2 separate regions of the Homo sapiens genome follow, and region 2 is linked to region 1. The links come from fine-mapping of genetic effects on gene expression. Tissue or cell type: whole blood. Region 1 holds a variant in brackets; the other region holds the start of a gene. All regions are shown on one strand. Distances are between the middles of the regions. Region 1 overlaps TXNDC11 (thioredoxin domain containing 11). Region 2 holds the start of ZC3H7A (zinc finger CCCH-type containing 7A).

Evidence for each region. PIP is the estimated chance that this variant, and not a neighbour inherited with it, causes the effect.
Region 2: it holds the start of ZC3H7A, and the variant in region 1 is fine-mapped to the expression of ZC3H7A in whole blood (TOPMed, PIP above 0.99).

Annotation. Positions count from the first base shown.
Region 1 is chr16:11,726,730-11,729,641 of GRCh38, forward strand. All of the region lies in intron 4 of TXNDC11 (thioredoxin domain containing 11), which reads right to left. Among named protein-coding and RNA genes, the nearest start is that of TXNDC11, 15 kb to the right of the region's middle. RefSeq lists an enhancer at 1,800-1,859. The variant A/T (reference allele first, on the strand shown) is at 1,414.
Region 2 is chr16:11,795,582-11,798,493 of GRCh38, forward strand. ZC3H7A (zinc finger CCCH-type containing 7A) reads right to left here and starts at 1,677. Exons shown (of 23, transcript NM_014153.4): 1 at 1,543-1,677. RefSeq lists silencers at 909-1,068, 1,551-1,960 and an enhancer at 1,376-1,913.

The DNA of each region.
Region 1 (2,912 bases):
TACATGAATAGAGTTCCATATACATATAATAAAATTTTACGTCAGCGGGGCACAGTGGCTCACACCTGTAATCCTAGCATTTTGGGAGGCTAAGGTGGGCTGATCACTTGAGGCTAGGAGTTCAAGACCAGCCTGGCCAAATGGTGAAACCCCATCTCTACTAAAAATACAAAAACAGCCAGGCGTGGAGGCACATGCCTGTAATCCCAGCTACTGAGGAGGCTGAGGCACGAGAATCACCTGAACCCAGGAGGTGGAGGTTGCGGTGAGACGAGATTGCGCCACTGCACTCCAGCCTGGGAGACAGAGCGAGACTCTGTCTCAAAAACAAGTTTATGTCAATAGAGAATATTATGTATTTCAGGACATCATCACTTCCCAAGTAATGAATGCTAACTATATAATTTTATAATGGTCCAAAATGCTCACAAATATCTAGATTAGAGACAAATTTATAATTAATCAATTTTTTTTCTTTTTTTTTCCTTCCTTAAAATCCAGATCCTACGCAAGAAATTTTTTTTTAAAACAAGGAGGAAATTATCACACATACTCCTACAAGATGTTACAAACATATCTAACAGACACTAAGTCAAGCAAAAAAAAACCAATCCTTCATTATGTCAAACTTCAGAAGTGCCATGAAAACATTAATTATTTTGACCCAATTTTGATATACTTAAATTTAAACACACTTGATACTGAAATCCATATTGATAAAAAATATAAACTGAGATAAGGCTCTTGACCAAAACAAGTATCTTTCATAGTAAGATGTCTTTAAATTAGCAAGTTCCTTCACATATTTAAACTGTATAGGGTTTTTTTGTTTGTGTTTTTTGGAAAAAGTGAGTAGTTTGAGTAAAAAGTTGAGTATCAGAGACAGCTCTACTGATGACACTCTAACTCACCCCTAGCTATAATTTCCACCCGCCCCCCCCACCCCACCATAACCTTCCACCATTCTCTAGTCAAGGCACTGTTTAATTTTCATCTTCTCTCTACTGCCACCATTATAAGCAGATAAACTTTTAACTATTAAATGAATGCCTTTGAGAGCCCCATGATAAAAGACATGTTTTCTTCCTCTTAAGGCCTTAATTGGGAAAACTCAATTCTTCAGAGCAGTAGTTCTTAATGGGGGAATTTTGCCCCCTGAGGGGTATTTGGCAAGGTCTGCAGATATTTTTGGTTGTCACAAATGAGGGGAGAAAAGGGTGCTACCAACATCTAGTGGGTGGAGGCCAGGGATATTGCTAAATATCCTACAAACCACAGGACAGCCCCCCAAAACACAGAATTATCTGACCTCCAACGTCAACTGCGCCAAGGTTGAGAAACCCTAACTTAGCAGAATATTCAAAAGCTTACTGTGTTCTACTCCAGGGACTCCAAAAATTCCTTAACTTTCCT[A/T]ATTATTCAACCATCAAAACCATGACAGTGGTTTCATTTCTGGATCTAGAATTCTGTCTCTATCTTATAGGCAGTGTGTGTGAAACTGATACATTTTCTAGGCTGTGCTATTTGGTATATTTTGCAAGACAAATGGTTTCACAAGTGTCACGATGGGCTTGACTAGTGAGTTGTTTCACAATTAATAAAGTACTATCTATCTCTTGCCAATGAGACAATCTCATCTCAGTGACAAGCCCAGCAAAAGATGATACTAACCCGATAAAAGCCACAGCTTTTGGGAGGAAGTCATTTTAAAGGCTGACAGAAGTGATCTAGGGACCCCATCTTGGTAGCACTCTTGTGGTTCCCATTTTAAAGGCAGTCCAGTTTAATCACTGTTGTACATCACTCTAAGTGGGCTGCCAAAAAACTTAATGTAATGTTTTAAATGTCATCAGCAGTAATGTCGTCAGTAGATTAGTGAGTCTAACATGAACTCCACACCAATACTTGGAGGATAGTCTTTTAAAGTACTGCTGGGCTGGGCATGATGGCTCACACCTGTAATCCCAGCACTTTGGGAGGCTGAGGCAGAACGATCGCTTGAGCCGAGTTCATGCCACCACACTCCAGCCTGGGTGACAGAGTGAAACCCTATCTCAAAAAAATAAAATAATCCAGCCTGGCCAACATGGTGAAACCCCATCTCTACTGAAAATACAAAAAATTAGCCAGGTATGATGGTGCATGCCTGTAATCCCAGCTACTTAGGAGGCTGAGGCAGAAGAATCACTTGAACCTGAGAGATGGAGATTGCAGCGAGCCAAGATCATGCCACTGCACTCCAGCCTGGGTAACAGAGTGAGACCATCTCTAAATCAATCAATCAATCAATCAATCAATCAATGGAGTACTGCTAAAAGCAGGTCTGTCTGACTCCTGATTCTTCACCATTTTGCTGTGCCATCCCGAGTGGCTCTGGCTGTAACCCACTGAAGAACCATGTCAAAACCCACTTACCACAACTTTACTGTTAGAAGGAATCTCAAGGATACCCTGGCCCAGGCCCCTGATGCCCAGGAAGTGAGTAACCCGCCCCAAATCACAAACCCAGTGAGTGTGCCAAAGGGATCAGGCCCCAGTACCCTGCCTCTTAATATAGCCCTCACCCACCAGCCTGCCCAGGGAAAATGAGAGGCAGGCCTCTGAGGTGCACAGACATCCATCTGCTATCTATGTAATTAAGGAATATTTACTCTGATGCATAGCTAAGAACTAAAAGCAGAATAACTAGATATACTGCTGCTTGGGGAATCTCTGCTAATAGTTAACACATATGTAGTTTCCAACATGACTGAATAAAGCTATACTGATGTTCTGGTGAAAAAATGTGTATCCAATCTATACAGAATATAAATAGTGCGAACAGTAAAATTCAACTAGCCACAATTCTAAACTGTCAGGAAGGTCTGGATATACATGGTTTTTTAATCTCTGTCAGGTATTTATGGTCTTGA
Region 2 (2,912 bases), 69 kb after region 1:
CCTGCCACCACGCCTGGCTGATTTTTGTATTTTTACTAGAGACGGGGTTTCTCCATGTTGGCCAGGCTGGTCTCGGAATTCCTGACCTCAGGTGATCCACACACCTCGGCCTCCCAAAGTGCTGGGATTACAGACGTTGAGCCACCCCGCCCGGCCCGTATATGTCATTTTAAATTTCCAAATAGCCACACTAAAAAAAGAGAAAAAGAAAAGCAGTGAGATTAACTTTTGTTTTTTTATTTGTTTGTTTTGAGACAGTGTCCCAGGCTGGAGCACAAAGGCACAATCTCAGCTCACCGAAGCCTCAATCTCCTGGGCTCAAGGGATTCTCCCACCCCAGCCTTCCGAGTAGCAGATTCTCCCACCTCAGCTTCCCGAGTAGCTGACTACCGGCGTGCGCCACCACGCCCAGTTAATTTTTTGTATTTTTTGTAGAGACAGGGGTCTCACTATGTTGCTGAGGCTGGTCTTGAACTCCTGCACTCAAACGATCCTCCTGCCTCAGCCTCCCAAAGTTTTGGGATGACAGGCATGAGCCACTGCATCCTGCCAAGATTAATTTTAATGATCTATTTTCGTTAATCCAATTTGTCCCAAACATGACCATCTCAACATGCATTTAAGTATAAAAGATTACCAATGACATCTTTTACTTTCTTTCTCATCCGAAGTTTTTAAAATCAGATGTACGTTTCACAGCTGGGACCGCAACTGAAACTGGCCCCATTTCGTGGGCTCCATCGTCCCAAACGGCGGGGGGTCAGTGGCCACCGTACTGGGCATGGCAAGGTCCTTCGTGGTTCAATACCGAACACGGGCAACTCCTTTTCATCCCTAGACAGGTGGGGACAGGAAAATACCCAACTCCTGGCAAATCCACCCAGTCCCGACTCAGGCTCGACCTCGGAGGCCCCGGCCGGGCCTCAGGCGGCCCCACCCCTTTGCTGCCCAGGCCTGACCGGAAGCCCCGCTAATGGGAACTGACAGGTCCCGGTCCCGGTCCTCCCGGGCGGCGCCCCCGCCTCCGCGGACCCCAAGGCCTCTCCCCGCCCGGCCCAGGGCTGCACCCCGCGCGAAAAAATAAAAAAATCAGAAAGGGGGGTAAAAAAGACGGATGAGCCCCAAATTAATGCGCCAAGCTCTCCGCCGGCATCCTTCCCGCCCCCAAGCCCAAGACGCTGAATCGGGATCCCCGCGATCACCAGAGCAGACAGAAATAACCAAAAAAAAAATTTTTTTTTAGTGAAATCACCAAAAAGGAGACATTTTGCCGAGGGAATGGCAGGCAGAAGTGGGTCACGTTATTCTCGGTGGGGGAAGGGGACGGCGCGCCCACCCGTCCCTCCGCGCGCACAGGCCCCGGCCCGGCTCCTCTCAGGGTCCTCTCGGGTCCGCGGGCCCCGGACCCCGCCGCCCCTCCCCCGCCCCGCCCGCCGTCCGTTAACGGCCGCGCGCGAGCACGAGGCGGCGGCGCGCGCGGGGGGGGCGGGGGCGCGGGCGCGCGCGTTTCCTTCATGCCCGGCGGCGTCCCCCTACCCCTACCTGTGGGGACGACGCGCCGGCCGGCGGCAGAAGGCAGGCGGAGGCGGGCGGCGGCAGGCGGGCAGCGGTGGCGGCGGCGGCGGCGGGGCCTGGGTGCTCGCTCGCAGCTCTCCCTCGGTTAGCGGCGGCGGCAGCGGCTCGGTTGCGCCCGCGGCGGCGCCCTCTAGCGGCGGGAGGCCGCGCTTGCCGCCCGGGAGACGCCGCCATTGGCTGCGCCGGAGCTACGGGCTGGGGGCGGTGGCGCCACGTCTGACTGGGGGCAGGGACCTGGGCGCGCCGTTCAATCCGGAGCCCCGGCGTCGACGCGCGGCCCACTGGGTGAGCCAATGGGAAGGCCACGTTGCGCACTGGACGCGCTCGGACTCAAGACTGATTAACCAGCACCGGGGTTTTCTGGGGCCTCGCCTGGGCCGCGGCCTGAGCAGAAGCGCTAGGAGGTAGAACAGCGTCCAGCGGGGAGAGGAGCTAGAGTCGGCATCGGGAAGCCCACCCTGGAGCCTGCTTAGCTTGACGAGCCCTCAACCGGGGCGCCCTGCTCTGCGAAGAGTAACCCTGCATCCTCAGAACAACCGTGATTGTCTTCATTCCTACATATGAGGAACGGAGGCGCGGAGCCCCACGGCAGCCGGGGATCCAAAGACAGCCTCCCTCCAGTTCCATCTGCCGGCTCTTGGAAGGCCTGGATCCCTGTCCTTCAGGGCCCAGCCCAAATGCCGCCTCGTCCATCTGCATTTTACGGCCAGGTGCCCCGCTGCGGGCACGGCTTCTTGTAAAATGCTCAGCTCAGCAGTGGGCGAGGCAGGGTCCCTGCCCCATGGGATGGAGGGCGGAGATCAGGACCCACAAGAGCCCAAAGAAGACCATTTTGGTCGGTGAAGACCAAAGAAATTCAAGCAGGAGGATGTGACAGGAGCTTTTGGGAAAGCCTCTGAGGAGGTGACAGCCATGCAACCGTGTTCGGGGAAGTGTGCCGCAGGCAGAGGGGAAATGAGTGCAAAAGCCCTGAAGCTGGAGTTCGGTGTCTGGATAACAGGAAAGGCCTGCATAGCTGATGTGTGCCAGAGGGGAGAAAGATCTGTGACACAGGGGGGCCGCCATGTTTAATTTGGAGTTTTGTGTGGAAGGGGGTCATTCATTGAGTCTGAATTGGGAGTTCCGAGGTCTCATTTATATTTTAGAAAGTTCTCTCCTGCTACTATGCAGAGATTGGGCTGTAGGAGAGACAAGAGGGGAAGTGGGGACTCTAGCTACAGTAGCTCTTCCAGGGGTCTGGGTGACGTAGATTTACAAACCAGAGTATTAGCTCAGGCTGCCATGACAAAATACCCCAGACCAGGCAGCTTAGACAACAGGAATTTATTTTCTCACAG